Linked DNA regions of Homo sapiens: region 2 is linked to region 1. Evidence: fine-mapped expression QTL. A gene starts in region 1. The other region holds a variant in brackets. All regions are shown on one strand. Distances are from middle to middle.

Region 1 (5,366 bases):
GTGTTCTATTTCTAGCGCCTATCACTGACTCATATTGTGACCTTGCTGAGGTCATGGCTCTGTTTTATTTGTTGGGGGAAAAATTTAGAGGTGGCAAAGCTTGTATTTCCCCCAAGGGATGGGAGCTCTGGAATCTGAGATACCTCCCTGCTCCCTACAAAGCCCAACCATGTCTAGTTCTGCTGATATTAATGAAAAGAATGCTTACATTTGGATCCAAGGAACTTTGGGGGACACTCGAGGAAACAAATTGTTCCTGCCATCGCAAGATTTGTGGCCACTTTTATTGGCAATATTTCTCCAAAGACCTTTCAAATCATGTTCCCATACAAATACTTCCCCATGCGGCCCTCACGTTGTCTGTGGAAAGGAAGAAGAAAGGTATTTTTTCATTAGTTTCAGGATGAGGAAATCAAGGCTAGGAGTGGTATTTCTCAATAGGTTTGTTACCAAGAGCCCCTCTTAATATTTTAGTACCATGCATTCCCCTGTTTTGCAAGTCCTTGTCAACTAAATACTTGCATTTATTCAGTAGAAATTCATCTCTGTTTTTCTTAAAGTCACCTATGAATGCCGGTTCTGCACAAAAGGACTAGTGCTACCATTAAGTTCACTGGCAAGAATTGCAGTATTTAATCCGGGAGACCTCCTCAAAGATAAAGGCCTAATTTTCACCAGACTTTTTTAAATTTTGAAAAGACCTCCTCTTCATAGTATCTGGGGACCCAGGCTAAGAAGTCCCCAGAGAGATCAAGTGGCTTGTGAAAGATTCTGTGGCTAGTGGTGGGGCCAGGACCAGACCCAGGGTCTTGATTCATATAGGTCAGTGCTCCAGCCAACCAGACCACTTGGCAGGGAGGGCTTGTGTACACACCCAGACATACAGACACGCGGGCATGCACGTGCAAGATGGCAGCCCAACCAAATGCGGGTGTCATGAAACCATGATGCTAAGGGCTCAAACCAGTAATAGGTTCCCCTCAGTACAGGAGGGAGCAGGCAGAACCAAGCCTGAGATTGGCAGAGTGCAACAGTTCGGTTCAGGCTGCTTTTGCAGAGTTGCAAGGGTGGGAGATGTGTTTATTCTGCCACCTGCCTGCACTTTGTGTGACTCTTCAATAATTTATACATCATTTATGTAGGCAGAAGCATTTTCATCCACTCTGGGAGCATTCAGACCACTCCTCCCGACACCTGCCTCTTCAAGAGCATGAGACTGGGGTGGGGAAGCTGAGCCCTTGAAGTTGGGGATGGCAATGGCAAATTGGGCACCCTGGGAGAGTGGAGACAGAGACGGAGAACTGAGGGAGGTCTGGCTTAGTGGCCTGGAATGTAAGTAGGGGAAAAGCTGCAGGACTCCAGGTGCCTCAAAGCTTCCCCCTGGGTCTCCCCCGCCTCTTCCCCAGGGCTCCTGCAAATATGCTCATCTGTTGAGCCCTTGGCTCCATCCCAGGGGATCAGTTTTTTCATCCCATGGCTCAGAGGCATCAAGTCGGCCTGTACCTTTGGAAGAAGGCCGAGGGCTTAGCTTTATGGCTTCAGAATCCGAGGCTCCACCAATCCCCAGCATGGCCAGGGGCCAGGGAAGGGTCTCTGGGAGCCTGCTGCCCAACAGCTGTTCCCTGGGTTATTTTGGTCTAGTGGGAGTCTGTCAATTCTAGGGCATTTGGACCAAAATAGCCAACAGCGGGACAATCTCTTGGTAGCTCTGTGGGGACCCCTCCCCATATAGAAGTTTCTAGAATGAGGTGGGACAGAAAGAAAGGAGTTTGGCATCGGGGTGGTGAAGAGGGAATTTTCCTGCCAGTGTCAGAGGCTGACATCAGCATTTCCTCACTGTCCTTTCATCTCAGCCTTGGCACGTTCCTGACTGCCTCCCTAGGCTATCCAAGGTGGGGTTTTGAGGGGGAGAGAGGAAAAGATAATTTTTGAACTTTGTTCTTGACTTCTTGGTCCTCCCCCAAAGCTGATGAGATATATATTACCTTTTTCCATTTCACAAATGGAGCTACCAGGTCCACAGAGGCAGAGGTACTGGTCTGAGGCCACACAGCTTGGAAGCCAGGCCTGGTGACTCCAGGCCTCAGAGCCTCAGCAGCTGGACCTCTCAGACCAGCAGCTGATCCTTGCATGGATGCCAGTTCCATCCAGAAGTTCGGGGCCGGCATGGAAAGTGCTGACTGGCCCTGCAGGCCACAGCGGGGGCCCTGGCAGCCACTTGCCTCGCTCACCCTCCAGCCTAAGATGGTTCAAGTGCAGGTGGGGGAGGGAAGAGGGAAGACCAGTCACTCACTCTCTCCCCTTGGAACCCCGCCCAAATTCAGACCAGCAGACCCTGGCGCGGCACCCGAGAACCTGCAGGGATTGCCCCCGGAGCAGAGTCAGAGTGACCCAGGTCCCACTCCCTTTGGCGACATAGGGTGGCGTGCAGGGAGCGTGCTTTGGCACCAGGCGGGCGCGAGGGGGCAGGGCGCACGCCCGGGACACGCCTTAGGGAAACCGCTCCTGGGCTTGGTAGCTGAACTTAGACGTCGAGTGCAGCCCGCCCGGTGCGCGCGGCGTCTTACTGCCAGATCTCGGAAATCAGCTGCCAGGGTGGGGCCGCGTTTTGGCGACGGCCACTCGGCCACCCCTGCCGCTCCCGCCTCTCCCAAGAGATTTTTCTAGCGGGTTAATTTCCTGTCCGGGTAAACCCTTTGGTGAGTCCCTCGCCCCTCCCTCCCCGCCCCTCCCCTCTCCATCCCTGCTGTCCCGGCTCCCCAGTCCGTCCGCGCCGCGCTCCATCGCCCCCGCACGCCCGGGCGCACGCCCTCCCCGCCCGGGCCGCCCTCTGGCTCCCCGCGCCCGGCAGCCAGTGCCTCACCGCGCCGTCCCGCGCCAGGGCTCGCTCCGAGAGCCGCTTCCTTCTCGCCGCGGCCGGCGCGGGCCCCCCGGCCATGCGCCCCCGAGCCCCAGCCTGCGCCGCCGCGGCGCTCGGGCTCTGCAGCCTTCTGCTGCTGCTCGCGCCCGGGCACGCGTGCCCCGCGGGCTGCGCCTGCACCGACCCGCACACCGTGGACTGCCGCGACCGCGGGCTGCCCAGCGTGCCAGACCCTTTCCCCCTGGACGTGCGCAAGCTGCTGGTGGCCGGCAACCGCATCCAGCGGATCCCCGAGGACTTCTTCATCTTCTACGGCGACCTGGTCTACCTGGACTTCAGGAACAACTCGCTGCGCTCGCTGGAGGAGGGCACGTTCAGCGGCTCGGCCAAGCTCGTGTTCCTCGACCTCAGCTACAACAACTTGACCCAGCTGGGCGCCGGCGCCTTCCGCTCGGCCGGGAGGCTGGTGAAGCTTAGCCTGGCTAACAACAACCTGGTGGGCGTGCACGAGGACGCCTTCGAGACCCTGGAGTCGCTGCAGGTGCTGGAGCTCAACGACAACAACCTGCGCAGCCTCAGCGTGGCCGCCCTGGCCGCGCTGCCCGCGCTGCGCTCCCTGCGTCTGGACGGGAACCCCTGGCTGTGCGACTGTGACTTCGCCCACCTCTTCTCCTGGATCCAGGAGAACGCATCCAAACTGCCCAAAGGTGAGCCGAGCCGGCTAGGCTGGGGGAGGGAGGGAGGGGGGCAGGGAGAGGCCACCCCAGACCCCAGTCTGGGTGGGAGGAGCCGTGGGTTGAGTTTGGAAGAGGAGGCTTGGGGGATCCTGAACTTTTCCTGGGTCTCTGCTGGGGAAGTGGGTGGAGAGGGACGCATCTGGAATTCTTTGGAGTTTCTGAACCCTGAGGCTGTACTTCTTCCCCTGTTTCTCCAGTAACTCACTTTACCAAGTTAGGGACCTTCCCCTTCTCGGGATGCCCAGGATCATCTCCCTGGGCTTTGGGTCCTAGGACTGGCGGGTGTGGATTACTTATGCGTCCCTGGTAAGCGGAATGCAGCCTACTCTATGGGAAACGGCCGTATTCTCAGTACCGTGCACGGGGAGTCAGCCAGTTCCAAGGGCTCTCCAGCAGCTTCCCGAGCCTAACCTGGCCTCTCAGCTTCTCAGCTCCAGTTTGCTCTTCTGTCTAATATGGGTGAGGAAGATTTCTGATGTGGAATAATGGCAGCCCATTAAGAGCCAATGATGCAGTAATGATTTGTAGTTCTCTGTGGCTTTTCAGCCAGATGTGAAAAAGCTGAACCAAAATGTAGAGGGCTGGTGCCCCCTTTGCTTTCCTGGTGCACGCTTCCAATGGCGGCGTGGGCATAAAAACTCACTTGGCAGATGGGAACACCAGGGCGGAGGGAGTTAAGGGGCTCCATTAAGGCCCGCAGGAAGGGAGCACGGGTGGAGCTGAGAAGGAGGGGACCCCAGCATCCACAGGGATGAGCACCCAGAGTGAGGAGGCAGGTGGCAGGTGGGTGTCCTTCCCCCAAGTGGATTCCAGCCTCCCACTTGTGACCCTGTGAGCACCAGTGCCCGCAGTGACCTCTCAGAGCTGAACTCTGCCTCCTGCCTTGCTCCCAAGATTTCAGCAGAATTGGGACCACAGCTGCAAGGCGCACATCATCAAAGGTGACATACATGCAGATTTAGCTTCAGAATATTTTTTTTTCCATTTACGGAGAAATCAAGGATGCTGTTCATCTGTGTGCTGAACTCCTGCATTCATATCTTCATTCCCAACTGTCATCAAACACACCCCATGCTTCGGGGTGCTCACTCTTCAGCAAATGCAGGCCCCTGAGCCATCACTTTCAGCCCAGGCTGGCTGAAATTCCTAAAACGATCTGGCCTGCAGGGTGCAGAGTCCCCACCTTTAAACTTTGTCCTCATCCACTTGTCTGGTTTCCCAGACCCTGCCCACCAGTAGACTCGGTCCTGGAGACAGGAGTGACCGGATGAAAAGCTCATGGTGGGATGGGGTACACCTCGGTTCTGCTTGCTTCTGCCTTTCCTTTTCAGTGGGGTTGGCACCATTCACCCCTGTTGTTGGTTGGGTTGGTTTATTGGCTCCAGTTGTCTTCCAGGTGAAGGCAAGGTTTTATGAAGTCAGGAGCTGTGGGTTTGTCTCAGTTCTGCCATGGTGACTGTGACCTTGAACAGGCCACTTGTCCCATTTGGGCCTCAGTTTCCTCATCTCTAGAATTCTTGCGTTGACCTCTGAGATCTCCAAAGAGCCCTGGATTTGGAATCTGAAGACATGGATTTAAGTCCTGGCCTAAAATCTGGGGGACTCTGGGTGGGTCACTCCAGTTTTTTAAGCTTCACCTTTCCCTTGAGTGAAATCAAGACATGGGTAATGCTGCATAGTCCATCCCACCCAGTGGTTGTCGAGATCCAAACAAGGTGATGTGAGTGAAAGTAACGAGCAATGGAAGTGAAATGTTCCTCCTCCTGCTG
Region 2 (5,366 bases), 32 kb after region 1:
TTTTAAGAGAGATGGGGAGCCACTGGAGGGATGTTGAGCAGAGGAATGACTAGAAGTAGTTGTAATAAATCTCTCTCCACACACACATGCGTACTCGCTCCCTCTCCTCTCCCCTCCCCTCCCCGCTCCTCCCCTCCCCACTCCTCTCCTCTCTGTTGGTTCTGTTTCTCTGGAACACCCTAATATGGGCACCCTTCTCATATATCTGGAGTCAAACGCAGGCTCAGTCTGAAACTTCAAAAATCTGAACAATGCTAACCACGGGATTCTCGAGCACGTACGTGGCCAGGTACTGTGGTGAGAGCTTTTCAGATATTCCCTTATTTCATGTTCACAGTATCATCTCGAGGAGGCACTCAAGGTGGCTGGGCCTGGCCCAGGGTCACACAGGCACCAGGTGGTGAAGTGGCCCAGCCTGGGGTCCGTCCTAACCCTAACGTGGGCAGCATCTCTTCATTCTGTATTTCAGGGCATCCAGGGAGCCCTTCTGACAAGGGTGTCCAGAAGCTGTGCTCCCTGGATGCCCAGTGGCTTCATCTTCCCAGCCTTTCCAGCTCATGGTGGGATCAGGAGGGTGGCTGGAGAGTTCTAGGCCATCTCTTTAGAAGACACTCTGCCTGGGCTGGGTGTGGTGGCTCACGCCTGTAATCCCAGCACTTCGGGAGGCCGAGGCAGGTGGATCACCTGAGGTCTGGAGTTTGAGACCAACCTGGCCAAAGTGAAACCCCATCTCTACTAAAAATACAAAAATTAGCTGGGGGTGGTGGCATGTGCCTGTAATCCCAGTTACTCGGGAGGCTGAGGCAGGAGAATTGCTTGAGCCTGGGAGGCAGAGGTTCCAGTGAGCCGAGATCACACAACTGCACTCCAGCCTGGGCTACAGAGCAAGACTCTGTCTCAAAATTAAATAAATAAATTAATAAAATTAAAAAAAAAAGACACTGTGCCTCGAGGGAGCTTGTTGGGAGGGGCTGGGCCAGGCTGGTGCAGCCCTAGGTCTCGTGCCTGGGAGAGTGGGAGGCACGATGCAGTGGCCAAGCTCCAGAGCCAGACCAGCTGGGGTCAGGCCCAGCTCTGGCATTTCCCTGCTACATGGCCCCGGGCAAGTCACTTGCCCTCTCTGTGCTTCAGTTTGGTCAGCTATAAGATGGGGATACTTAGAGTGGCCTTCTGATCAGGTTGGCCTGAGGAATAAACAAGGCTAGTATGTTTTGTGAAGCTTGAAGTGTGCTAGGCACACACCAGGTGCTGTGAAGTATTGGCTTTCCTTCACTATTCTTAACTTAGACAGCTGACGGGATAGGTCAGGAAAAGGAGAACATTCCAAGGTCAGGTAGGAACATTGCAGGGATCCCATGGTCACCTCCATGTGCCGCATGCCAGCCCATCCTTCCACTGTCCTGCTGATCCAGCCCCCAAAGCCCCCTCTGTGAGCTTGCCCTTGACCTGTCTTGTGGGGCGTTGCACTTTCTTTTTTTTTTTTTTTTCCGAGATGGAGTCTTATTCGGTAGCGCAAGCTGGATTGCAGTGGCGTAATCTTGGCTCACTGCAGCGTTTGCCTCTGGGGCTCAAGAAATTTTCCTGTCTCAGCCTCCCAAGTAGCTGGGAGTAGAGGCGTGCGCCACCACACCTGGTTAGTTTTTTTGTTATTTTTAGTAGAGACAGGGTTTCACCATGTTGCCTGGGGTGGTCTTGAACTCCTGCATTCAGGCGATCCACCCGCCTCAGCCTCCCAAAGTGCTGGGGTTACAGGTGTGAGCCACCGTGCCTGGCCAGGCTTTGCACTTTGTCCTTTAAGTGTCCTCTTTTGTGCCTGTGTCCCTATGCCTCTCCTGTAAGACCTAAGCTCCAAGAGGCCAGGGCCACCTCTCTCTGTCTCTCTCTCTTCCTCCCACTCTCCCTGCCTTCCTTCCATCTTCCCTTCCTTCCTTTTGTATCCTGCATGGCATGTAGCATGAAGCCTCACCTGTTTTGCTTAATGCATGAATTAAAGGAAGCCATTTAATAACTAAATGTCTATTTATTGACTAAAAATAGGCCTGTCTTAGAAGGTTACTATCTTAGTCTTCTCAGGCTGCCATAAGAAAACACCATAGATTGGTGGCTTAACAAGCAGGCATTTATTTCCTCACAGTTCTGGAGGGTGGAAGTCTGAGATCAGGGTGCCAGCAGGGCTGGGTTCTGGAGAGGGCTCTCTTCCTGGCTTGCAGATGGTCGCCTTCTTTCTGGGTCCTCACATGGCAGAGAGAGAGAGAGAGAGAGAGAGAGAGAGAGAGAGAGGGAGAGAGGGAGAGAGGGAGAGAGAGGGAAAGAAAGTGAGAGGCAGAGACAGATTGGGAGAGCTCTCTGGTGTCTCTTCTTCTAAGAACACATTGGCCGGGCACGGTGACTCATGCCTGTAATCCCAGTACTTTGGGAGGCCAAGGCGGGCGGATCACAAGGTCAGGAGGT[G/C]GAGACAATCCTGGCTAACACGGTGAAACCCCGTCTCTACTAAAAAAATACAAAAAAAATTAGCCGGGCGTGGTGGTGGGTGCCTGTAGTCCCAGCTACTCTGGAGGCTGAGGAAGGAGAATGGCGTGAACCCAGGAGGCAGAGCTTGCAGTGAGCCGAGATCATGCCAGTGCACTCCAGCCTGGGCGACAGAGCGAGACTCCATCTCAAAAAAAGAACAAAAAAAAAAAAATAAAAAAAACATAAGAACACTAATCCCTGGCCAGATGCTGTGTCTCACATCTGAAGTCCCAGCACTTTGGGAGGCCAAGGTAGATCTCTACTAAAAATACAAAAAAATTAACTGGACATTGTGGTACACACCTGTAATCCCAGCTACTTGGAAGGCTGAGGCAGGAGAATCGCTTGAACCCAGGAAGCAGAGGTTGTGGTGAGTCGAGATCGCGCCACTGCCCTCCAGAGTGAGACTCCATCTTGTTGGAGGGGGTGGGGAGGAAGAACACTAATCCCATCAGGACAGCCACACCCTAGTTACCTAATCTCATCTAACCCTAACTGCCTCCCAGAGGCCTCACCTCCAGATACCATCACACTGGGGGCTAGGGCTTCCACATATACATTCTGGGGATCTAAATGTTTAGTCCATAATAGCCACCTAATGGCTGGGCCTGGTGGCTCACGCCTTTAATCTCAGAGCTTTGTGAAGCTGAGGTGGGAGGATTGCTTGAGGACAGCAGTTCCAGACCAGCCTGGGTGTATTAGTCTGTTCTCGTGCTGCTAATAAAGACATACCTGAAACTGGGTAATTTATAAAGGAAAGAGGTTTAATGGACTCACAGTTCCACATGGCTGGGGAGGCCTCACAATCATGGTGGAAGGTGAAGGAGGAGCAAACTCACGTCTTACACGGTGGCAGGCAAGAGCGCATGTAGAGGTGAACTCCCATTTCTAAAAACATCATGGTAGTGAGACTTATTCACAACCAGGAGAACAGTATGGGGGAAACCTACCAACCCCGTGATTCAATTATCTCCACCTTAACAGCTGGGGATTATTACAATTCAAGGTGAGATTTGGGTGAGGACACAGCCAAACCATATCACTGGGCAACAGAGCGAGACCCTGTCTTTACAAAAAAATTTAAAAGTCTACATAATAGCTATATACTTAGTAGAGCATTTCACTCTAAAGCAGTGATCCTCAACTGAGGTGACTTTGTCCTCCCCACCCAGGGGACACGTAGCAATGTCTGGAGACAGTTTGTTTATTTTTTAGACAGAGTTTCGCTCTTATTACCCAGGCTGGAGTGCAATGGCGTGGTCTCGGCTCACTGCAGCCTCTACCTCCGGGGTTCAAGCAATTCTCTTGCCTCAGCCTCCCAAGTAGCTGGGATTACAGGCATGCGCCACCATGCCCAGCTAATTTTTGTACTTTTAGTACAGGTGGGGTTTCGCCATATTGGCGAGGTTGGTCTGGAGCTCCTGACCTCAGGTAATCCACCCGCCTCGGCCTCCCAAAGTGCTGGGATTACAGGCATGAGCCACCACTCCCGGACTGGAGACAGTTTTGATTGTCACACTGGGTGGGAGGTGTTGCTGGCATCTGGTAGGTGGAGGCCAGGGATGCTGCTGAACATCCTACAGGACACAGGACGGCCCCTATGTCAAAAAAATGTTCCTGTCCCAAATGTCAGTGATGGCCAAGTTGAGAAACCCTGGTTTAAACAAGGGTCTACCAGGAGAGAAGAGGGGACCCTGGAGTCTGCCTATGCCAAGTCTAGAGTTGTGCTGTTGGCTTCACAGCCTTTGTAGCCAGCTTTTGTAGCAATACCCTCAGCCTTGTGCTGGGCCCTGTCTGCCTGGCAGACTCTCTTCGTCCAACTCTTCTTCTTTCTCTGCCCTTTGTGAGCTATGAAAGCTCATCAAGTCAGTGGATCTTATCATGAAAGCCCCACTAAGCACTGCCGTTCTAAAGTCCCCGCCCCTGGTGGGCTTGTGTGCACCGTTTTTCAAACAAGCCCATTTCTTCTAGCCACGGAGAAATGTGAGATGACATTTTCTAAAATTGTCACTTTGTAAAAATGCCAAGATGAGTCTCAAGGCACAAAGAACATTGTGGAAATCAGAACTGACTTGGGAAGTGGTGGCTTGCAAAGGTTGGATTTAAACGGCAGGTGCCGTGGGCTTATGTTGTTGGGTTGTGGTGGTTTTCCGGTTGATACCGCTTCCTGAAGATGAGGATTTCTAGAAAATTTCTCCAGCTAAATAATGATCTGTCACTAGTTTGGAGGCTGCAAATAATCTGCTGGCTTTAGAAACTGTCTGTGCTTCACACAGTCTGTTGGTGTCCATCTTACTTATTTTCATAACGTTTTTGGCCGGGGTAGGCTGTTAGGAGGCAGGTTGATTGATGTTTTTCCATTTTTTCATTGAAGACATGAGTGTCTGCAAAAAAAAAAGCCCAGTATAACTTTGTTTTAAAGTGCTCCTATTTTTATTTTTATTTTTTAAAAGATAAAGCTCTCCTGTTTTATTCAAATGCATTTAAAATTCTCAGAAGTTTGGCCTCTTTAAGAAAAAGAAACAGTCAAAAACAGTAATCAAGTATAAATTGGGGAGGCCTGCAGAGCTCTGGTCCAGCTAATTCCTTGGGTATATAAAGCAGACACTGATTCTGGGAGAGGAGGGAATGCAGAGTCTGGTTGCTAGGCAATGGTTCCCATGGGACAGAAGCATCGATGGGTTGGCTGTAGACTACATAAAAGATGGGGCAGGACAGAAGGAAGGAGGATGCTCAGATACTATTCCTCCATCTCCTGTTTCTGAGATGGAGAAAAAAAGACACACAAACCCCCCCAGGGTGGTTGCAGGGTTGCTGTGTAATTAGCAGGGCTGCTTTTTCCAGGACAGAAGCCT

Alleles and levels. Positions count from the first base shown, and alleles are read on the strand shown. Sizes are in standard deviations (SD) of each study's normalised expression.
With allele G in place of C in region 2, the expression in adrenal gland of the gene that starts at base 2,527 in region 1 is higher (small effect, 0.28 SD a copy in GTEx).

What was found. PIP is the estimated chance that this variant, and not a neighbour inherited with it, causes the effect.
Region 2: its variant is fine-mapped to the expression of LRRC38 in adrenal gland (GTEx, PIP above 0.99).

Annotation. Positions count from the first base shown.
Region 1 is chr1:13,511,164-13,516,529 of GRCh38, reverse strand. LRRC38 (leucine rich repeat containing 38) reads left to right here and starts at 2,527. Exons shown (of 2, transcript NM_001010847.2): 1 at 2,527-3,567. The coding sequence starts at 2,937. It overlaps LOC107984918 (a long non-coding RNA gene), which reads right to left and starts at 3,310. Exons shown (of 3, transcript XR_001737896.2): 1 at 3,189-3,310; 2 at 1,986-2,239; 3 at 266-360.
Region 2 is chr1:13,478,703-13,484,068 of GRCh38, reverse strand. The region is part of intron 1 of LRRC38 (leucine rich repeat containing 38); the gene reads left to right. Among named protein-coding and RNA genes, the nearest start is that of LRRC38, 33 kb to the left of the region's middle. The variant G/C (reference allele first, on the strand shown) is at 2,452.